Regions from separate parts of the Homo sapiens genome. Here region 2 is linked to region 1. Evidence: fine-mapped expression QTL. A gene starts in region 1. The other region holds a variant in brackets. All regions are shown on one strand. Distances are between the middles of the regions. Region 1 holds the start of PRMT3 (protein arginine methyltransferase 3). Region 2 overlaps PRMT3 (protein arginine methyltransferase 3).

The links. PIP is the estimated chance that this variant, and not a neighbour inherited with it, causes the effect.
Region 2: its variant is fine-mapped to the expression of PRMT3 in whole blood (TOPMed, PIP 0.98).

What each region holds. Positions count from the first base shown.
Region 1 is chr11:20,380,597-20,392,751 of GRCh38, forward strand. PRMT3 (protein arginine methyltransferase 3) reads left to right here and starts at 7,120. Exons shown (of 16, transcript NM_005788.4): 1 at 7,120-7,178; 2 at 7,423-7,558; 3 at 9,148-9,230; 4 at 11,615-11,664. The coding sequence starts at 7,151. HTATIP2 (HIV-1 Tat interactive protein 2) reads left to right here. Exons shown (of 5, transcript NM_001098522.2): 4 at 1,582-1,643; 5 at 2,384-3,186. The coding sequence ends at 2,609. RefSeq lists silencers at 4,314-4,514, 6,831-7,390 and enhancers at 4,447-4,948, 6,828-6,997, 6,871-7,478, 7,479-8,085, 7,941-7,990.
Region 2 is chr11:20,426,129-20,438,283 of GRCh38, forward strand. It overlaps PRMT3 (protein arginine methyltransferase 3), which reads left to right. Exons shown (of 16, transcript NM_005788.4): 10 at 638-737. Among named protein-coding and RNA genes, the nearest start is that of PRMT3, 44 kb to the left of the region's middle. The variant A/G (reference allele first, on the strand shown) is at 6,190.

The DNA.
Region 1 (12,155 bases):
GGGAGGCGGAGCTTGCAGTGAGCTGAGATTGCGCCACTGCACTCCAGCCTGGGCGACAGAGTGAGACTCCATCTCAAAAAAAAAAAAAAAAAAAAGCTAAGAAATGTGTGTACACATAAAATCTTGTGTATGACTGTTCATAGCAGCATTATTTATAATGGCCAAAGAGTGGGAACAACCTAGATAGCCATCGACTGATGAATAGATGAATAAAATGTGATATATTCATGCAATAGAATATTATTCAGCTATAAAAAGAAATGATACATACTACAACATGGGTGAACCTTGAAAATATTATGCTAAGTGTGAGGAGACAGTCACAAAAGACCACGAATTATATGATTTCATTTATATGAAATGTCCAGAATAGGCAAATCTATAGAGATAGAAGGTACATTAGTGGTTGACTAGGTCCCCAGAGGGTAGGGTACGAGGAGTGACTGCTAATGATATGGGATTTCTTTTCAGGGTGATGAAATATTTTAAAACTTAGATCGTGATGAAGGTTACAGAGTTCTGTGTATATACTAAAAACCACCTATTAAAAAAAAAAGAATGGCCAAGCGCGGTGGCTCTCGCCTGTAATCCCAGCACTTTGGGAGGCTGAGGCGGGTGGATCACTTGAGGTCAGGAGTTCGAGACCAGCCTGGTCAACATGGTGACAACCCCGTCACTACTAAAAATACAAAAATTAGCCAGGCATAATGGCGGATGCCTGTAATCCCAGCTACTTGGGAGGCCGAGGCAGGAGAATTGCTTGAACCTGGGAGGTGGAAGTTGCAGTGAGCCAAGATCATGCCCTTGCACTTCAGCCTAGGTGACATGGTGAGACTCTATCACACACAAAAAATACATAAATAAATAAATAATTAAAATTAAAAAATTTTTAAAAAGAAAAAGATATTTAAAAATAGCTACTTAAATGTCTGTGATGAGACAGGTTAAGTGCCAATTGAGTGGTACACACAGGCCAAGAAGGAGGCGTGCATGACCGTGTGGTAGTTCACAGGCCTTTGGAAGTGCCTGTGGGCTGAGCTCCTCAGGCATTTTGTTTCCAGAGATGCCTGCCATGAAAATGCATGCTTTATTTAACAAATTAGATTTAAAGCATCATCTAGATGTAATCTGTCTTAAAATTTTGTGAGGTTTAAGAAGTGAGTAATATAGTGGGTCTATGGTTTTCTGACCCACTGGAACTACCTATAAACCAAAAAAACGTTAGTGTCTGCTAGCATGCAACATGAATTCTGGACTAAATAGAGGATATTCTTTTATGATTGTACTAACGTATGACTTACCCTCTCTGAATCTGTTTTAATATCAATAAAGTGAGAGGACTGACTATGCAGCCATTCACTCATTTAGTGGATCTTTTAAATGAAAGACTACACATCAGGATTAAATGATCTCTTCCTTAATTTCCCAGACTCCTTGGAACCTAAAATTCTAGATAAGGATATTTTGAGTATTGAGATCTGCAAAAGCAGATTATCTCAAAACCACAAATTATTCTCTCTTAAACTTCACACAGGTGAGCTGGTCGCGATTAAATACTGAAAATGTGTTTTTTCTTAATAGGGAGAAGTAGAAGCCAAGGTTGAAGAATTAAAATTTGATCGTTACTCTGTATTTAGGCCTGGGTAAGTATAATATTTATACTGAATGAGAGTATGCCACTGATGGTTAATCCCTAGATACTAATTTTTCATTTGGAAAGGCTGACAGCTGAAATATCTAAGATATGAAAGACATTGGCTAGAGGTAGATTGCTTCTCTGAAGGACACACCTTTTTGCTTAGAAAGAAAGGGTAGATGGTGGGGCCTGCTTCAGAATAGTCTGGAACTTCCTGGACAGCATTTGCTGCCTTCTTAAATCCTCTTCATGTGCCAAATAAAACCTTACGTCTACTGTATTAGTCTGCTTGGGTTGCCATAACAGAATACCACACAGATTGGGTGTCTTAAACAACAGAAATTTTTTTTCACGCAGTCTGGAGATTGGAAGTCCAAGATCAAGGTGCCCTCAGGGTTGGTGTCCGGTGAGGCCTCTTTTCCTGGCTGGCAGACAGACCACCTTCTGGCAGTGTCCTCACATGGCCTTTCTTCTTAGTGTATGCAGACAGAGAGAGACCTCTGATGTCTCTTCCTCTTATGAGGACCCCAGTCCCATCACACTAGTCCTATTCCATCCTTAAGACCTCATTAAACTTAATTACTTCCCTTAATGCCTTATCTTCAAATATAGACACCTTGGGGATTAGGGCTTCAACATTAGAATATTGAGGGGATACAGTTTTGTCCGTAATGCCCACTGTGGTCTCAGTGCAATTTACCACCTCTTCCTCTGCTTTTCTTTCTTTTTTTTTTTTTTTTATTTTAGAGTTCTGTTATGTGATAGGCAAGAATCTCGCCCAGGTGAATGGCTGGTTAGAAAGTTCTTTGGCTCCTTACCAGACTCTTGGGCCAGTGGGCATTCTGTGCCTGTGGTGACCGTGGTTAGAGCAATGCTGAACAATGTGGTGAGACCAAGAGACAAGCAGATGGAACTGCTGGAGAACAAGGCCATCCATGACCTGGGGAAAGCGCATGGCTCTCTCAAGCCATGACCACATTGGAGAAATGGTTTTTATTGTCAACCTTAACACCCATCACCAAATCGGTAATTTCAGGGTCTAAAAAAAGTCAGCATGTTTTAACTTTGTTGTTTTACTATCCTCAGGCATCCATTCCAATCAAGAAATGATGGTGCTCTGCATCAGTGGTTCAGAGCCTGGTTATACATATAGATCACTCAGGGAGCTTTGGAAAAATAAAGATTTGTCAGCCCTATCTCAAACTTGAATCAAAATTTCTGGGGTGTGGGCACAATAATCTGTAATTTTCTTTGTTTATACTTCCCCTGATGCCACTGGTTCCGATGCCACTGGCTGGGGGGCCTGCTTTGAAATGCTTGTCTGCAGAGTCACAGCAGCCATGAAAACCTTATGACCGTGCAAATGAGCTCTGCTCTAAAATTGTTGACATTCATGTCTCTGAGTTACAAAAGTGCTAATTCACTACATGTAATTGTGTAAGTAAACATTGTGCCTTTACTACTTCTTTATGTAATAGAAGTTATATACCTAAGCTTATATAATACATGGGGAGGATTAAATAAAGGAATAAAGATGAATGGACAACTCCTGGGTGCCTCTTAGATTGCTTGAAAATGCCCATGTAGTGTGATATGCAGCATTTCAGCCTATGGGGTGATATAATAGCAGCTAATATTTACCAAATGCTTGCTAAGTACCAGTCTTTACATGTGTTATCTGTGCTTTAACCCTCTTATAAACAATCCTTATAAAGTGATACTATCATGATCTTCATGTCTTAGATGGGGAAATGAGGCTCACTGTGGTTAAGTGCCTTGCTCAAGAGTCCAAATCTGAAGAACTGAAGCAAAGAAATGGCAGAGTCAGGATTCTAACCCAGGTCTGCCTGATCCCATAGATCCCATATATCGTGTTTTTAAGCACCCTGCAAAAGCATTCTGTTCCCGTATATTTCCAGGTAGTTCCAGTTGATTGTTACTACATGTTGTGGATGAACAAAATCGAAATATTTGGGTTTCTCCTTTGTTCTAGTGATTAATTACTAAATGTTCACATAGCCAGTAAAATTCTATGCCACCAAACTTTAAAGTGCTCATGCTGCTGCACTTTAAAAATTAAGGCAAAGGAAGATGCAGAAGGAAGGGTCAAAGCCAAGAGGAACATACATTGCTAATTTCCATCATAGAACAAAAGATGTTAATGTAACTTGTCTTAACGTCTGCACCAGGGAAGCAAAGTGATTCGAGGGACTCAGTCAATTCTTCCAAGGCCTACTGTATGCCAAGTACATTTCAAGCTTCAGTATACACTGGAGGATAAAGGCCATTCTCCTTAATTTGGAGTGTATATCCTTAGAAGGGAGAAGACATTCCCAGTGTCAGTCACCCAAAAAAGAGGCATATTTTAGGGCAGGGTGGGATATTGAAATGTGAGCTTTAAAAGGAAATGAAATATCTTCCTTCTGCCAGGTGGGGTTCCCTGGGAGTTGGACTTTGAAGAGCCTAAGTGTGTTGTTTTGATGGTGAAAAAGCATGGGCCGAGGATATGTTGAGGCCTCTGGGCTCTGAAAGCAGCTAAACCCAGTGGCCTGTTTTAAGTTATTCTCCTTATATTATTTCCTTACTCACAAACCTTCGAGCAGGTTTCATTCAACATGTTATTCTGGTCTCAGTAGTGATGTGGGATAATGAGGAAGGGTCTGTGTTCACCTTTGGAGTAGAGAGAAAAGCAGCCCTCTCTTGAGCTCTGCATTGTGGTGAGATATGAACTTACTAAGGAACAAGACTCTGGCCCAATCACTCCTCCACAATGGGTGTTAACTTGTTTTATTGTCAACACTGAATGGACTGGGTGTTCCATTTAGTACTAAGGGATTCAGGAAGTTTTCCACCAAATGTTACACAGACAGAAAAAGTTTATGTTGGAAGGATGAAGGGAAAAGTTGGATGGGCCCAGGTAATCAAGTGTTCATTAATTCATTCAGCAAATGCTTATTCAGTGCCTTTCATGTGCCACTGAGCACACAGGCACTGGGGATGCATCCATGAACGATGACTCCAACTCAAGAGAGCCAGCAGCTATTCTGGCAATGTCCTAGGATGTAAGAAAGCTTCAAAATTAATATTTGGGCCGGGTGCGGTCAATCACGCCTGTAATCTCAGGACTTTGGGAAGCCGAGGTGGGCAGATCACTTGAGGTCAGGAGTTCAAGACCAGTCTGACCAACATGGTGAAACCCTGTCACTACTAAAAATATAAAAATTAGCCAGGCATGGTGGTGAGCACCTATAATCCCAGCTACTTGGGAGGCTGAGGCAGGAGAATCGCTTGAACCTGGGAGGTGGAGGTTGCAGTGGGACAAGATCGCACCACTGCACTCCAGCCTGGGCAACCGAGCGAGACTCTGTCTCAAAGAAAAACAAAAACAAAAACTAATATTTAATGGATTCTGTCCTCTAGGAATTTACAATTAAGGGAGAAAAGTACATTTAGAAGTACATTTAGCAATAATATAAGGCATCATTTTTATTCAGTGAATACATTCAGTATCTATTAATACTATGGGCCAGGCCACATATTATGTGCCAGAGAAATGAAAGTAAAGAGACATGGCCCTTACTTACCCTTATTGTTCAGTGCTGTGGGGTATCACCAAAAAAGAAAAAAAAATCAAGTAAGCAAATGGTGGGTGCTAAGAAACTAACAGGATACTCCTGAAATAATGGTGGAAACTATTTTAGAAATGGCCTGAGGAAAGTGTTTCTGGTTGAGACCAAAGGGACCTACCCATGTGTAGAACATTCAATGATTAGCAGTAAATAAAAGGCTTAAGGGTGGGACCCAAGGTGAAGGGTTCCATTGGAAAGAGGCAGGATTATGCAGGGCCTGATAGGCCAATTAGATAAACTCTGCTAGAGCCTGGGGCACTCCCTCCTAAGCAAGAATTCTGGGCCGGGCGGTGGCTCGCGGGCAGGTGGATCACCTGAGGTCGGGAGTTCCAGACCAGCCTGACCAACATGGAGAAACCCTGTCTCTACTAAAAATCCAAAATCAGCCGGACGTGGTGGCGCATGCCTGTAATCCCAACTACTCGGGAGGCTGAGGCAAGAGAATCGCTTGAACCCGGAAGGTGGAGGTTGCGGTGAGCCTGAGATCGTGCCATTGCACTCCAGCCTGGGCAACAAGAGCGAAACTCCGTCTCAAAAATCAAACAAAAAAAAGTTCTATGGTTTGAAGAGATATAAGGAAAGGAAGAAAGGGACGTGGCATGAGGCAGGCAGGGGAACATTTGTGTTCTTCCCCACACAGCAGCCAGATTGTTACTTTCTCAACACATCTGAGAGCATCACTCCCTGGCTTAAATAGTTATGTCTGAGCACTTTACATGTATTAACTCGTTTTATCCTTACTGTAGTTCTGAAGTTAGTCCAGGTTTTTTGTTTTTTGTTTTTTTTTTTTTAAGATGGAGTCTTGCTCTGTTGCCCAGGCTGGAGTACGGTGGCACAATCTCGGCTCACCACAAGCTCCGCCTCCCGGGCTCAAGCAATTCTCCTGCCTCAGCCTCCCAAGTAGCTGGGATTGCAGGCGCGTGCCACCACACCTGGTTAATTTTTGTATTTTTAGTAGGGACAGGGTTTCACCATGTTGGCCAGGCTGGTCTCCAACTCCTGACCTCAGGTGATCCGCCCGCCTCAGCCTCCCAAAGTGCTGGTACTATAGACGTGAGCCACCGTGCCCTGCCCAAGTGCAGTTATTATCCTTGTTTTGTATTTGATGAAACTGAGGCAGAGAGAGGTCGAGTAACTTGCCCAAGATCACAGTTACAAAGTGACGTGGGTAGGATTCAAACCCAGCAGGCTGCCTCTAGAGTTCACGTTCTCACTTAACCAAAGATTAAAATCCGTCTTGGGGGGTTTGACACCTATCTGTCCCTGCAGTAGACCCACCCTGGCCCATGCAGTTCGTTCCCTCTCGCCAGCTGCACCCCCTCCAGGACCTGGGAGCCCAGAAACCAGCCGAGCCTCCAGCGTTTGGCCTCCTCCGCCACCAGAGGGCGTCATGGGCCGATCGCCCCTCCGCTAACCGCTCATCCCAGGAAAAAGGGGCGCACAGAGGACAGGATGCCAACCCCAAAACCGCAGCGACGTCTCTCTGCCTTGGGGCTCACAGCAGCGGGCCGCGACCTCCCACTAACGCCTGCCGCAACCCAAGGAGGAGACAAAAGTCATCTTCCGGGCTGCAACATTAACCGTCATCAGCGCGCCTCTTCAGCGCGCACTGCGCCAACCCTGCGGCAGGAGGAGGCGGAGCCCCCGCTCTCGCCCCGCCCCCACCTCACGTGACCCGCACGGCGCCTCGAGGCCGGAAGCGATTGCGAGCCAGCGCGCGCGCTTCGGCGTTCCCGGCGGTCTGCGAAGTTTCCGGAGCCCGGGTCCCGCCGCGGGTTCGCGCTTGTGCTCGCGCTCGTTCCTGGAGTCGGCGGCCGCTGCGCGCGCTCGTTGCCCAACCCGGTCCCCGCCCCCAGACACGCCGGGCTCTCGGGGCACCACAGCCATGTGCTCGTTAGCGTCAGGCGCTACCGGTGGGTACCCTGGCCCCTCAGCACCCGGCTCGTCCAGCCCCAGGCCGCGCCGCTGTGGGGCCGGTGGAAGACCCTCCGGGACACGGGCCCGGGCAGGGTGGGGGGCTCGCAGGGATCATGAAGGAGGTGCTGAGTGAGGGCCGCGGGCGAACGGGGCGGAGGAGAGCCCATCGTCACCTGCTCCTCGAGCCCCCGGGCCGCACCGGTGTCCGAGGCCGATCTGATTGTTGTGTGTGTGTGTTAGGCGGCCGGGGCGCTGTGGAGAATGAGGAGGACCTGCCAGAACTGTCGGACAGCGGGGACGAGGCCGCCTGGGAGGATGAGGACGATGCAGATCTCCCCCACGGCAAGCAGCAGACCCCCTGCCTGTTCTGTAACAGGTTCGTCCGCCTCAGCGCCTGGCCTCTGCCCTAGGGTGCCCGGGCGCGTGGGGTCTGTGTGCCCAGGAACGCCTTCGGGCGGGAGGCAAGCCAGAGTGGCCTGTCTTTGAATTCTGGAACCACTGGTCTGGGGTGAGGGCTTGTGGAGAAGGAGGACCCTCGGTAGTAGAGAGGGGGAACCGTGAACTGGAAGGCCGGTTGTACTGCAAGCTTTTGACTGGTAGTGCATTGAATCTGTGGTTCCCAAATCTTGTCACTTGAGACGCTGAAAACAAAATGATACTGAACTCTGCACCTGAATCCTTCCAAGTCAGGGATGGGGTCTAAGAATATTCTGTTTTTATGAGGACAAGATCGGAAGTAACAGTGAAGTTACTAACGAGTTACTACTAACGAGTAACATATTTGGCAGCCACCCTGAACTAGATAATCCCTACGGAGCCTTCCGGCTTTACCATGCTAATTCTTTGACCAGTACAGAGCTTCTCAGGTGAAACATTTCTTTTTTATTTGAGCGGTTTCCATAGTCTAAGAAGGAAGTTCACCTTACTTAAGTAGGACTTTTCACTTAAGGAAAAAGACTGTAGTATCAATAATTTGCTCAAGGTCACAAAGCTGTGGTGTGCTTATTTCCAAACTCACATTCTTGCCACTTAAAATTCTGCCTGTTAGTCTTGGGAAGCTTTGGCTCCTGTCCTAGGCAAGTAGGCATGAAAGAGGCCCGGTTGGCATTGGCCGGTGTTACTTTAATACATTTTCCAGTGTTCCCTGTATCTGGGCATGGTGCTGAGTGGTGGTGCGTTAGTGTTCTCATCTGTAGCCCCATTGGGTAGATAGAATGCCTGTATATATTCTAGTTGTCATAAAATATTTATTGAGCACCAGTGGTACCGTGGCTGTGATAGCCTCCATAAATAGTCGACATAACCTATCTCGGTAAACATTTGTGGAAAACTAATGCTCCACATGTGTTAGGAATATAGATAAGGTATACAGCTTCTCTGCTGTGTATTCCTGTCTTTAAGTAGCCTTCAGATTTGCATGTCACATAATAAAGAGGATTGATCCTCACAGTGTCTGTGATGCAAGTACGTTGGGAATACTACAAGATCACTTTTGAAATAAGGCACTTGGGGAGTATGCCAGCTGTAAAATTACATTTTATGCTTTATTTCTAAAAGCAGTTTGAGCTGTGCCAGTTCAAAGCCTCTGAAAGCAGAGTTGACACTTAGAGGAGAAAAGAATCTCAAGTAGAGAAATTGTATGACTTGAGAGAAACAGACTCTATCAAAGGGAACTCTCTTAAAAGCCTTTTGATAAAATCAGTGATATTATTTGACAAATAAATTCACTTTGACATTTAAAGGATAATTGGTTTTAGGTATAAAATGGGACTCAGAAGTACTAATTCCCTTTAAAAGTGCTGGATTCCCTTCCTTTCAGATACAAGTGTGTTTGTTTTTTCTTAATTGGAAGTAAAACTAGAAACCAGCAGAGTTAAAAAAAAAAAAAAAGTGTATATGTAACATGAAATCAGTATTTAGACTTCTTAGGGGACTATTCCATGAAGCTATTGCTTGATTTTTCAGGTTATTCACATCTGCTGAAGAAACATTTTCACACTGTAAGTCTGAGCATCAGTTTAATATTGACAGCATGGTTCATAAACATGGTGAGTAGTTTTTAGAATAAAGGCAATTTAATTTGTGAAATTTGGGCAGGCATGGCAGCTCACACCTGTAATCCCAGCACTTTGGGAGGCTGAGGTGGGTGGATCACTTTAGGTCGGGAGTTCAAGACCAGCCTGGCCAACATGCTGAAACCCCACCTGTACTAAAATACAAAAGTTATCTGGGTGTGGTGACGCACACCTGTAATAGCAGCTGCTCAGAAGACTGAGGCAGGTGAATTGCTTAAACCTGGGAGGCAGAGGTGGCAGTGAGCTGAGATGGTATCACTGCACTCCAGCCTGGGCAACAGAGTGAGACTCTTCTCAAAAAAAAAAAAAATCTGTGAAATATAAGTTCAGATTTTATAGTTTTTCAGACCCTTTTCTGTACGAGTTTAATATGGCGAATCACACAGCAACATCTTGTGGAAATGGAGTTTTTTTGACAAGCGGTCCTTGAGAAAAGATGAATAAGTCACTCTTCTAGACAAGATTCACTGTATTTAAGCTTATATTAGCTTTTCAACTAAAAACAAAAACAGACTTGGCATGTGATTACATTTTTACATTTTATGTGATTACATATTAGATTTAGGGAGAGCAAGTGTAGATGTAGGACTTGAAAAAGGACGCAGGTCATTTGAAAAAAGACAATCAGCTCAAAGCATGACATGAACTTCACAGCCTACGAGACTGAGTTTTATACAAAGTTCGGTAGAGACTGGAAAAAGAGTGATGAAGTTAAGATTAATATGCAAAATACTCAGGTGATGTTTCTATTGAAACTTTTATTTAAACACACTTGCCTTACAATTAAGGCCTTCCACTTTAAATGGATGTAGAAGAGCTATACTACAATAAAATTAACTAAATAGGCCAGGTGCTGTGGCTCACGCCTGTGATTCCAACACTTTGGGAGGCCAAGGCAGGTGGATCACAAGGTCAAGAGATTGAGACCATCCTGGCTAACCCAGTGAAAACCTTTGGGAGGCCAAGGCGGATGGATCACAAGGTCAGGAGATCGAGACCATCCTGGCTAACCCAGTGAAAACCCAACTCTACTAAAAATACAAAAAATTAGTCGGGCATGGTGGCATGTGCCTGTAGTCCCAGCTACTTGGGAGGCTGAGGCAGGAGAATTACTTGAACCCGGGAGGCGGAGGTTGCAGTGAGCTAAGATCATGCCACTGCACTACAGCCTGGGTGACAGACTGAGACGCCGTCTCAAAAAAAAAAAAATAATAGGTTTTTTGGTCCCTATATTTGTTGACAACTAAGAAGGGACATTACTGAAGAATAGCAAATACTAACAGGTGTTTCAGTGTCAGATAAATACGTGATATCACATGTTTATAAATCATAAATTCAACTGCAAGTACTTTCGTAAGGCATAAATGACAGCCTCATTTTTTAATGTTTTTTGTTTTTGTTTTTTTTTTGAGACGGAGTCTCGCTCTTGTTGCCCAGGCTGGAGTGCAATGGCACGATCTCGGCTCACTGCAACCTCCGCCTCCCGGGTTCAAGTGATTCTCCTGCCTCAGCCTCCCAAGTAGCTGGGATTATAGGCATGCGCCACCACACTGGCTAATTTTGTATTTTAGGAGAGACAGGGTTTCTCCATGTTGGTCAGGCTGGTCTGGAACTCCCGACCTCAGGTGATCCGCCTGCCTTGGCCTCCCAAAGTGCTGGGGTTACAGGCATGAGCCACTGTGCCCAGCCTTAATGTTTTTAATGTTGCATTTCTAAAGTATTAGAATCATACTTAAGATAGAATTTTGTTTTGTTTTTTTTTTACTTACCGATATAGGGGGTTTGTATACTATTAAAGTTTTCTCATAACAAGAGTTTTATGACAAATAATTGGTTGGTTGGATGTATTACTGCTTTCCTTTGTTTTAAATGCTGCTTCATTTCTGGAAAGATACGAGAACCAGATAACAAGCCTTATTGGGCTTGCATCATTTAACTTCATGTAAAAGCTAGTATACACCATGTCCTGGCAAAATTATAATTTGATACACACCATAAAAATTAGGGATTTAATACTTTCAGCTCTGATATCAGTTGCCAAATACTTGGTAAAATGTGGATCTTAATTTTCCAGATTTGTATTGTTCTGACAAAGGAGGAGTAGAATTTTAGAAATCAGTTTTCCATCTTTTTAGAAATACTAGAAAAGCTTTAATTTGTCATTTATGGCTGCTTCTCAAGATATTCAGAAGTATCATTGTATTACTACTTCTAATTCTTAATAAAATTCAAAATATAAGTAGTAATTTAGAGGTCAGAATTATTTTATTGTTTAATCAGAGAAGGCTTTATAGAATAGGTCAGTTAAACAAAACTCATTATGTTAACATAGGTGAATTATCTTTTTCCCCCTTTAGGACTTGAATTTTATGGATACATTAAGCTAATAAATTTTATTAGACTTAAGGTAAGTTGACAGCTTAATTTATAATTTCGTTTAGAAATCAAAGAAATGCTACAGTGACTGTCAGTGTACTGATTATTTAAAAGAATATGAGGAACTGCATTAAATTTGGTACTCATCATATTGGGGGAATCACGGACATTAGGAGGTAGCACAGCAGAAAGCACCATGTAAATGTCTACCATAACTAACAAATATTGTTTTCACTGCATCTAAGAGATGAATCGGTGTATGTGAAAAAGTAATTCAGTGTCAAATAAAGGGAAATACTGATGGACAGGATCTGTAAAATCAGAAATAATTTCTAATGTGATTTTAAGTATTTTGGTTGCTCTTTTTTATTCTGTTTTTTTTCAGATACTTTGTTTTTTTTTTTTTTTGTCCTGTTTAAATGAATGTTTAATGACATGACAACGCTTTCCCCAAATCCAAACAGTAAAAAAAACTCTGCGTTGAAACTGCTGGTTAAGCAGTCGTCCAGCAAGTTAATGAAA
Region 2 (12,155 bases), 46 kb after region 1:
TTTTGATAGTGATAAGATTTCAGGTTTTAACACTTAATGTTTTGTTGTTGATGATAGTGTCATTGTTTATAGATACATGTATAGCTTTCACAAGTATTTGATCCTCTTAATAGCCTGTGACGTAAATAGGGTCGGTATTATTCTCTTTTACACAGGAGTAGCACAGGCTCAACGAAATTACTTAAAAATTTGGTGAAGATCACATAGCTGACAAATGCTAGAGAATCTGGGGGTTAAATTATGGGCTTGGGGCTTCAAATTCTCTCACCCCTATGACAGACACAACACTTCCCTTTAAACCATACTTTTATATGTCTTATATGTCTGTCTTCACCACTGTGTTGTTTGTTTTAAAGACATGTAACTTCATTGACATGTTATTCTTGATAAAATTTGGATTTCTTTTCAAACTCAGATTTTAAATATTGGTTCACTGTATTGCCATATTAACCACAAACATCTTTGGGCATGCATGGAGTAACCATAAAATAATTACAATGTCCAAAGAACAACTAAGCTTTGATTGAAATACTTTTTTGTCCCACAAAACAATACGAGTTGTTGGCAAAAAATTATGTAATTTAACTAGCTTTCAGAATCTGTTTAACCTACTAATCTAATTCATTATAATTTTCAGACTAAATAAACTTGAAGATACTATTACACTAATTAAAGGAAAGATTGAAGAAGTTCATCTTCCTGTAGAAAAAGTAGATGTTATCATATCTGAGTGGATGGTGAGTGTTTATAGAAAAAACTACTTTCACTGGTAAAATGAAAAAACTTTTTTAAAGTAATAGTTTTCATGAATTTAATTATATTTGATACATGGCAGAATGGTGACATTATTTTTTAAGTAGCTACATTAGATACTATAATGTGTAATTTAAAAAAATAGCTACAGTCTTCTTACTGTAGTTTATTCTGAAATGGCCCTTATTTATTGGCTATTCATAATCTTTAAAAAGTGATAAATTATCTTTTTTATCTTAAAAGTCCTGATAAATTATTTTTCTACTTTCTAAGTTTTAGATACCTAAGTGTTTGCCTGAAAGCCTCCAGGGACTAATAAGAACTCATTAGGACTGTTTCATCAAAATTAACATGATATTGCCACCATTATCATACTGAATGTCCTATCTTTCTAATCTGTTGGGCCATGTAATCAATGTCCATTATCACATAAAATAGAATTTATTGCTGTTACTGAAATATTAAAAGGAAGGTATGTTACATAGCTTTATAATTTGCTGTTGAAATCTTTTGTCAAGACAGAATGTTTATTTTTAAATATATGGAAATAAAATTAATGGAGTCTGGGTATGGTGGCTCACACCTTTAATCCCAGCACTTTGGGAGGCTGAGGCAGGTGGATCACCTGAGGTCAGGAGTTTGAGACCAGCCTGGCCAACGTGATGAAACCCCATCTCTACTAAAAATACAAAGATTAGCTGGGCGTAGTGGCAGGCACCTGTAATCCCAGCCACTTGGGAGGCTGAGGCAGGAGAGTGGCTTGAACCCAGGAGGTTGGAGGTTGCAGTGAGCCAGGATCACGCCACTGCACCCCAACCTGGGTGACAGAGCGAGACTCCACCTCGAAAAAAAAAATGTATTTGACAGCTGATTTGACTTACTGATATGTCAATTTGACAGAAATAAACTGGATAGTGTTTCTAATAAAGATTTTTAAATTATTTTGAAATAATTTTTTTCCTTAAAGTTCTGTTTGGTAGATATATTTTCATAAAATTTATCAAAAAATTTTGAAAACATTGAGTTTTGCTTTATAATTTTTTATAAATTTTGAATAAACATAGTTATAATCCTAGTGAAATAGATGTTTCAAGGAACTTTTGGAATATTCAGATTTAATGTAGTAGTGTAGGGAGTTCCAGTCTAGAGCTGATGACAGTCACAGTTGTTGACAGTTACTATTTTGTATGTGAAACAGTATGTTGATTTTTTTTTTAATGCTAAGATTGGCCTTAAACAACCTTTAGTCACAATATCAGTATTCTCACACCAAAGAATTTGTATCAGCACTCTGATTTCTCATGAATTGAAAGAGTAGATATGAATTAAAAATGTAATATTTCTTTAAAGACTATGAAAAGATGCTTCTGAGAAAGCACATTTGAGGCATATAGACAAGAATTTTAAATAGTTTATGCTGTATATTTTACTCTTCTTAGAAAATGCATCTTTTAAATTACTCCAAAATAGACTTTATAGGCAAACCAAAAGAAAGACTTGTCCAAACTTCCTGTTACCTCAGTTGAACATTATTATATATCTGATTACAATAACTAATGGGATAGTTCTTGCTCTGCCTAGCAGAATTATACTGCTGGATATTGATGTTCTAGGATTTTTCACTTCCAAATCTGAAAGATGATCTAGAATTATTAATAGGCAATTGATATCTTAGAGCCAGCTGGTTTAATAACTGCAGTTAGCTGGATTGAATGAATTCATGAGATTGTCTTTATGATGTGAACTTTATTGAAAGTTGTACTGGAATCCATTTTGTACCCTTCTGCTTTCTTCTGTACCAAGGAGGGCTAACCCTGCAGGCTGCCTTTACCAAGCTCCTATGATGGCTAACTTCTGCTGAGTTTGGGGAACCCAATGGGAAACACTAGAAACACTAAATCTCCCAAGATTTAAGAAAGGGAGAAGCCAGGGCATTTCTTCCCTTCTTACTTTATCTCTAGTGTGTTGCTGGCAAAAGCTATTTCTTTTGTGGTTCCACTTCCCACCGAACAGGCATGCTGAAATTCCAGCATCCACTGTGCAACCCCAGCCCTGGGTTCTTGTAGCAGTAGCCTAGGAATGCTAGTTACTTGTGGGCATTGTCAAGTCTGGTTGTCTCACTCTCTTGATGACTGCTCATATCTTTTATCCTCTGTATAAGTGACTTTTGACATTAAATTTCCTCTATTTTAAATAGCTTTTGTGGTTTCTCTTTTCCTAGTTTGTGCTTGTAACTCAGCAGTCCCTAGACTTCTTGGCACCAGGGTCCAGTTTCATGGAAGACAGTTTTCCCATGGATTGGGGGATGGGGATGGGATGGTTTCAGGATAAAACTGTTCCATCTCACATCATTAGATTCTCATCAGGAGCATACAGTCTAGATCCTTCACTTGGGCAGTTCACAATAGGGTTCACGCTCCTGTGAGAATCTAATGCCACTGCTGATCTGACAGGAGGCGGAGCTCAGGTGGTAATGCTGGCCTGCCACTCACCTCTTGCTGTGTAGTCCAGTTCCTAACAGGCCACGGACCAGTACCCATCCCTGGCTTGGGGGCTGGGGACTTGCTCTAACTGAAATAAAGAACACCTTTCACTTCAGAGCGTTGGTCAGGTAAGACCTCTCTCTTCATCAGGAAGGCAGTCACTGGAGTCACTGGAGCCTGAGATGAAAGGAGCCAGTTGTTTGGAAGCCAAGGTTCTTCGAAACCAGTAATGAAAAACAAATCAGTGTATTCAGGAAGGGATAACTAAGAACTTTTCTTCTTCCTCACCACAAAGGTGTTACTTAAGCATTTGTATTATCTCACTGTCTGCCTTTCCTTGTTTTAAGTGAGTTGAAGTCTAGCAACTGTTTTAAGTGCTCTAGGTGGGGCATTGGACACTAAACTTACAGCAGTTATTCTATGGCAGTCAGCTCTGGATGGCCTTATTTCTCTGGTGAAATTTGCATTTAAGGCTTAAGAAGGCTTGTGCTAAATTATTTTCAATCATCTTTGTGGATTGGAAATATCATTTATGGTATCTTCTAAATCCTAGAAGTCCCTAACTTTATTTGGTACTTTCATTAGGATTTTTGATTTGAGAAGCTGGAAAACATCAATTACATAATTAAACAAAGGGCAGGTATGCTTTCTAAACTTTATCCTCCATGTTTCAGGCGCATTGGCTGAAACAGTAGGCAAATGGTAAACAACTATTTTAAATCTGTAGCCACATTTTCATGAACCAGCATTTTAAACTTAAATTGCACAGACTCCTGTCTTTATTTATTTTATTTTTTACATACAACATAATAAAGATGCAAAAATCTAGAATGAACCATAGTTAAGCATTTTTTTTCTCTTTTTACAAGTATTTTCAACAAGGAAAGACAAAAATAGAATATACCCTCCAGAATTGGGCACAGATGTTTAATGGATGTGTAATCCGGTATAGCAGTGTAGAAATCATATAGCAGAGATGTACATGTTTTCTTCTACTGTGGTCCACTAACTATTCCATGGCTTAATCTAAATATGTTTCTAGTCTGCACCTGTTCATGAATTTTTGTCTTTATTTTGGAAGATTTTTCTAGATAAGAATGTAATTTTAAAAGCTAAATTATTGCTGTTAGCATGTTATTTAATAAACAATCACTTGGCTTGCATTAACAAATTTCCAGTTCTAGGCTTGCCTTTAATTTTATATTTTCATTTTTGTTTTTATTTAAGAGAAGTTTTCTTTTTATTTTATATATTTAAGGTGTACAACATGATGTTTTGATTTACACAGTGAGATTATTACTGCTGTCAAATTAACATGTCTGTCATCTCACATACTTACCTGTCTTTCTGTATGTAATAAGAGCACCTAAAATCTATTCTCTTAGGAAATTTTTCATATACAATACAATATTACTAACTGTAGTCATCATGCTCTACATTTTCATTTTTATCAGATGGAATTTCTGTTTGACAAAATTGTTTCAGTTAAATGTAAACAGTTTAATCCCTGGAAGATGTTAATACCTATGTCTTTGTGTATGTGTCCTCATTTTTTACATTTTAGTCTACCAATAGAAGTTCTTGTTTTGAGAGCTGTTCTTTATTGCTTCTTATTTCTGCCTACTTAATAAAACTGTTCAAAATAAGCATCCCTAATTCCGACTCAGTAAGCCAAATTGACTCATTTGGTGTTGCTATATTTCCTCTATGTTTTCAGCATAACTTTGCAAACACATAGACTAAGTCCACGAGGCTTAGCATTAGTAAATGATGACGGAATGTGAATTGTAAAATTGTAAGAGAACGTTCCCAAACAGAAATTCGCTGGCCTCAGACATTTATAATTTTATGTACAATACATGAAGGCATGGAGATATAGTATATGACAGGGTTAAGAATGTTGCTCCAGAGGCAAACTACCTCCATTCTTGGGCATGTTACCTCTCTGTGCCTCAGTTTCCTTCTCTATAAAATGAAAATAACAGTATTACCTACTTCATAAGGTTTTTTTGTGAGGATTAAATGAGTTAATACATGCAAATTTCTTAGAACAGTTTCTGGCACATAAGATCTCAATAACTTAGGTATTCAGTTTTGAAAGTTATACAAACTTTTAAGTACTCTGTAACTCATGAGCGAGCTACTACACTAGCTAATTCAATAAATAACAGTTGAAAATAATCATATACATGAAATAAAGAATATTAATTCTTGGAGGAAGAACATTCTTAGGGCTTCTCCCTTGCTTAAAGCCCTTTGTAAAAGCGGAAGACTTTCTCTTTCCATGTCTAGCATTTACTAATTGACTGTCTGTGGTTGGTATACAGAAGTATGAAAGTAAGCTGATGGATGTGAGTTATTGGGATTTGGGGTATTCTTGGTATTTTTCTTAATGTTAGTTGAATCAAAATGTACTTTATGTATATTTCAAGCATAATTCTCAGTTTGCTGCCTTGGAAACAATTTTTAGGCAGTGCTGACAATGCCTAATAATTTTAGATAAAATATAAAATTCCCATTCCGCAGTACTGTTTTCTAGTACTGTTAAGTATTAACAGGGAGATATTTATAGTACTTGAACAATGAAAGAAAAGTTGTGGTTCATATTTTTTCATAGATATGCTAACATCTGAATCAAGAATAAAATGAAAGCAAAGGGAATAGAAATGTAATAGGTCCCTTGTGTATAATTATTTTGGTCTTATAATCTATATTTTTGTTCTTGTCTGTGCTCTTAACCACTTCCTAGCCTTTCTTTTATTCAATCTTCGATAAGTGACAAAGTATTCTAATCATGAATATTAAAAGGTTAAGTTATTCAGGAACATGAATCAACTGCCCTTACAAACATTTTTCAGGTAATCCCTCAGAGAACACAAAATATTTGTTAATTTTTATTTTAAACTCTAAAATTGTATAACAACTTAAAAATATTTTATCAGTAATACTGTTT[A/G]CTTCTACCTGGGAGTAAAAGTAAACCCTTCAAATTTACAGCTTACATTTGTAGGCACATAAGCATTTATTATAAATACAAATTGTCTCCTATAAACTGTATATTGTGTATATATGTCACATTTTTTTTGTCCATTCAACTCTTAATAGACACTTAGGTTGATTCTGTATCTTGGCTATTGTGAATAGTGCTGTTATAAATGTGGGAGTACAGACATTTCTTTGACATTCTGTTTTCCTTTCTTTTGAATATGTATACCCGGTAGTGTGATTGTTGGATCATATAATAGTTCTATTTTTAGTTTTTTGGGGAACCTCTATACTCTTTTTCATAATGGCTGTACTAATTTATATTCTTACCAACAGTGTATAAGAATTCTCCTTCTCTGCATCCTTGCATCCTTATTTTGTCTTTTTGATAACAGCCGTTCTAACTGGCATGAAATAATATCACATTATAATTTGTTTGCATTTTCCTGATGGTTAGTAATGTTGAGCATTTTTTAATATACCTGCTGGCCTTTTATATGTCTTCTTTTGAGAGATGTCTATTCAGTTTATTTGCCCATTTTTGATCAGATTATTTGGGTTTTTGCTGTTGAGCTCTTTATATATTCTGGATATTAATCTCTTACTGGATAAATAATTTGCAAATATTTTCTCCCATTCTGCAGATTATCTCTTTACTCTTTTGTTTTCTTTTCTGTGCAGAAACTTTATTTACTTTTTTAGTGGCTTTTTTTTTCTTTCAGATCTGGGAATACATATACAGGTTTGTTATTTAGGTAATAACTTGTGCCATGGGGGTTTGTTGTACAAATTATTTCATCACCTAGGTACTAAGCCTAGTACCCAATAGTTATTTTTTTTTTACTCATCTCCCTTCTCCCAACCTCTACCCTCAAGTAGGCCCCAGTGTCTGTTGTTCCCTTCTCGTATTCGTGAGTTCTCATCATTTAGCTCCCACTTATAAGTGAGAACATGTGGTATTTGGTTTTCTGTTGCTGTATTAGTTTGCTAAAGATAATGGCCTCCAGCTCCATCCATGTTCCCACAAAAGACATGATCTCATTCTTTTTTATGGCTGCAATAGTATTCTATGGTGTATCTGTGACACCATTTTCTTTATCCACTCTGTCACTGATGGATGTTTAGGTTGATTCCAATTCCGTATCTTTGTTATTGTGAATAATGCTGCAATGAACATTCATGTGCATCTTGCTCTTTATGGTAGAATGATTTTTATTTCTCTGGGTATATACCCAGTAATGGAATTGTTGGGTCACAAGGTAGTTCTGTTTTGTTTTGTTTTTGTTTTTTTTAAGATAGGGTCTCACTCTGTCTCCCAGGCTGGAGTGCAGTGGTGCAGTCTTGTCTCACTGCAACCTCCACCCCCCAGGTTCAAGCAATTCTCCAACCTCGGCCTCCAGAGTAGCTGGGACTACAGACATGTACCGCCGTGCTGGCTAATTTTTGTATTTTTGGTAGAGATGAGGTTTCACCATGTTGGCCAGGCTGGTCTTGAACTGCTGACTTCAAGTGATCTGCCCACCTCGGCTTCCCAAAGTGCTGGGATTATAGGCGTGCACCACCACACCTGGCCTGGTAGTTCTGTTTTTAGCTCTTTGAGGAATTACCATACTGCTTTCCACAATGTTTGACCTAATTGACACTCAGACAGTGTTTAAGTGTTGCCTTTTCGCCTCAATCTTGCCAGCACCGTTATTTTTTCACTTTTTAATAATAGCCATTCTGACTGGTGTGAGATGGTATCTCATTGTGATTTTGATGTTCATTTCTCTAATGATCAGTGATATTGAGCTTTTCTTCATATGCTTGTTGGCCACATGCATGTCCTCTTTAGAAAAGTGTCTCTTCATGTCCTTTGCCCACCTTTTAATGGGGTTGTTTGCTTTTTGTATAAATTTGTTTAAATTCCTTATAGATGCTGGTTATTAGACCTTTGTCAGATGCATAGTTTGCAAATATTTTCTTGCATTCTAAGGGTTGTCTGTTTACTCTGTTGATGGTTTCTTTTGCTGTGCAGAAGCTCTTTAGTTTAATTAAACCCTATTTGTCAGTTTTTGCTTTTGTTGCAATTGCTTTTGGCATCTTTGTCATGAAATCTTTGCCTGTTCCTATGTCCAGGATGGTATTGCCTAGGTTGTCTTTCGGGGTTTTTATAGTTTTGGGTTTTACATTTAAGTCTTTAGCCCATCTTGAGTTGAAAGGAAGGGGTCTAATTTCAGTCTTCTGCATATAGCTAGGCAGTTATCCCAGCACCATTTAGTGAATAGGGAGTCCTTTCCTCATTGCTTGTTTTTGTCAGCTTTGTTGAAGATTAGATTGTGATCTTCAATCCGATTGAAGGTTGTGGGTGTGTGGCTTTATTTCTGGGTCCGCTGTTCTGTTCCATTGGTCTATGTGTCTGTTTTTGTACCAGTACTGTGCTGTTTTTATTACTGTAGCCCTGTGGTATAGTTTGAAGTTGGGAAATGTGAAACCTCCAGTTTTGTTCTATTTGCTTAGGATTGCCTTGGTTATTTGGACTGTTTTTTGGTTCCATATGAATTTTAAAATAGTTTTTCCTAGTTCTGTGAAGAATGTCATTGGTAGTTTGATAGGAATAACATTGAATCTATACATTGCTTTGGGCAGTGTGACCATTTCAATGATATTGATCCTTCTACTCATCTGCATGGGATTTTTTTGTAAAAGCTATTTAATTTGGTATAATCCCATTTGTCTGTTTTTGCTTTTGTTGTTTGTGCTTTTGAGATCATCTCCACAAAATCTTTGCCCAGACTAATGTCCTGAAGCGTTTCCCCTATGTTTTCTTCTATTAGTTTAATAATCTAAAGCCTTACATTTAAATATTTAATCCATTTTTAGTTGATATTTTTTTAATTCATTTATTTTCTGTCGCCCAGGCTGGAGTGCAGTGGCACCATCTCAGCTCACCGCAACCTCTGCCTCCTGGGCTCAAGCAATCCTTCCACCCCAGTATCCTGAGGAGCTGGGACTACAGGTGTGCGCCACTATACCCAGCTAATTTTTGTGTTTTCAGTAGAGATGGGGTTTTGCCATATTGCCCAGGATGGTCTTGAACTCCTGGGCTTAAGCCAGCCACCCACGTCAGCCTCCCAAAGTACTAGGATTACCGCGCTCAGACCATTTTTAGTTGATTTTTGTATATGGTAGGAGATAGGGATCTAGTTTGATTTTTGTTTGTTTGTTTGTTTGCATATGGATATCCATTCTTCTCAACAATTGAAGAGACTGTCCCTTCTCCAATAAATGTTTTTGGTACCTTTGCCAAAAATCGGTTGGCTGTAAATGCATGGATTTATTTCTGGGTTCTCTATTCAGTTATTTTGGTCTATGTGTCTGCTTTTATGCCAATATCATGCTGTTTTGGTTACTATAGGTTGTTGACATCAGGAATTGTGATGCCTCCAGCTTTGCCGTTTTTGCTCAGGATCACTTTGGCTATTCAGGATCTTTTGTGGTTTCATGCAAGTTTTAGGGTTGTTTATTTCTACGAAGAATGTCATTGGTATTTTGTTACACTGAATCTGTAAATCACTTTGGCCAGTATGGTTATTTCAACAGTATTAATTCTTCCAATTCATAAGCATGGGATCACTTTCCATTTTTGGTGTGTTCCCTTCAATTTCTTTCATCAGTATTTTGTAGTTTTCATTGTAGAGATCTTTCAACTCTTTGTTTAAAGTTATTCCTAAGTATTTTATTTTACTGTAGTTATATAAATGGGATTGCTTTCTTGATTTCTTTATTACTTCCCCTGGGTATAGAAATGCTACTGATTTTTGAATATTGATTTTGTATCATTCAGCTTTATTGAATGTGTTTGTCAGCTCTAAGAGGTTTTTAGATTTTCTGTATAAGATCATGTCGTCTTCAAACAGGAACAATTTGTCTCCCTTCTTTCCAATTTGGATGTCCTTTATTTCTTTCTCTTGCCTGATTGCTCTGGCTAGTATTATGTTGAATAAAAGTGGTGAAAGTGGACATCCTCATCTTATTCCATATCTAAGAGGAAATGGTTTGAACTTGTCCCCATTCAGTATGTTGTTGGTTGTGGGTTTGTCATTGATGGCCTGTATTGTGTTAGGTACGTTCCTTCTATGCCTAACTTGTTGAGAGTATTTATCATGAAGGGATGTTGAATTTTATCAGATGCTTCTCTGTGTCTTTTGAGATGATCATATGGCTTTTGTCCTTCATTTTGTTGAAGTATCATGTTTATTGACTTGTGTACATTTTGTCATCCTTGCATATCTGGGATGAATCCCACTTGATCATGGCAAGTGATCTTCTGATGTGCCACAAGATTTAGTTTGCTTGTATTTTGTTAAGGACTTTTACATCTGTGTTCATCTGGGATATTGGCCTGCAGTTTGTTTTTTTTTTTAATAGTGTCTTTAACTGATTTTGTTATCTATATAATGCTAACCTCATAGAATGAGTTTGGAAGAAATCCCCCCTCTTGATTTTCTGGAAGAGTTTGAGAGTAATCGGTGTTAGTTCTTTAAGGGTTTGGTACAATTTAGCAGTGAAAGCATCGGGTCCTGAATTTTTCTTTGATAGACTTTTTATTACAGATTCAATCTAGTTACTTGTGTTCTGTTCAGATTTTCTATTCCTGGTTCAATCTTGGTAGGTTGTATGTGTCCAGGAATGTATCCATTTCCTCTAGGTTTTCCAATTTGTTAGCATATAGTTGTTCATCATAGTCTCTAATAAACATTTATAATTCTATGGTATCTATTTTAATGTCTCTTTGTTTCTGATTTTATTTATTTTGGTGTTTTCTCTTTTTTTTTCTTGGTTAGTCTAGCTAATGGTGTGTCAATTTTGCTTATCTTTTTTAAAAACCAGGTTTTCTTATTGATCTTTTGTATTTTTTAAGTCTCAATTTTGTTCATTTCTGCTCTGACCTTTGTTATTTCTTTCCTTCTACTTTGCTTTTCTAGTTGTTTGAGATGCATCATTAGGTTTTGTATTTGAAATCATTCAACTTTTTTGATGTAGACATCTGGTGGAGCAGTTGCCTTTTCTAGACTTCCTAGTGTTGCAAAGGGAAAGATTAGTGTTCCAGTTGGGAATGGTGTGGTGAGTATGTTTCCAGATAGGTGCAGTGGTATAGTCTCTTTGCAGCTTCTTGACCTGTGTTCAACATCAGCAATAATATGAGTGACTCAGTGGTATAGGCTGTAGAAGTTTGTGGCAGTGGTGGCAGCAGCATAGTTTTTTTTGTTGTTATTTTTGAGACGGAGTCTCGCTCTGTTGCCCAGGCTGGAGTGCAGTGGTGCGATCTCGGCTCAATGCAAGCTCCGCCTCCCTGGTTCATGCCATTCTCCTGCCTCAGCCTCCCGAGTAGCTGGGACTACAAGCACTCGCCACCATGCCCGGCTAATTTTTTGCATTTTTAGTAGAGACAGGGTTTCACCATGTTAGCCAGGATGGTCTCAATCTCCTGACCTCGTGATCCGCCCGCCTCGGCCTCCCAAAGTGCTGGGATTACAGGCGTGAGCCACTGCGCCCGGCCGGCAGCAGCATAGTTTTTAAGGTACTCAGTTGCAGCAGTTTGGGAGATCCTCATGTTTTCATTTTTCCTACAATAGGAAGACTTAGCTGACCCTGCTGTTAGGTCTGACATGGTCTACAAGCAGCAGCAGTGGTGCTTGGAGCAGCAGTGGGGCCACAGTACTGCATCAGAATCCCATGAACCTTTTGTGTTACCTGGGTCTTTGGGTGCAGATTCACCCTCTGTGGCAGGGTTGGATGTAAGTTTCCCACAAGAACTAGGATCTGTGACAATGGAGGCACCCTCCAGCAGCTCGGAACCAGAGGGCTCAGTTGTAACTGTGGTTTTACTCAAGCCACAGCACTGGCCTGACCCTGGGGAAGCAGGGATGTTCTGGAGGTTTGGGCTGGGGGAGC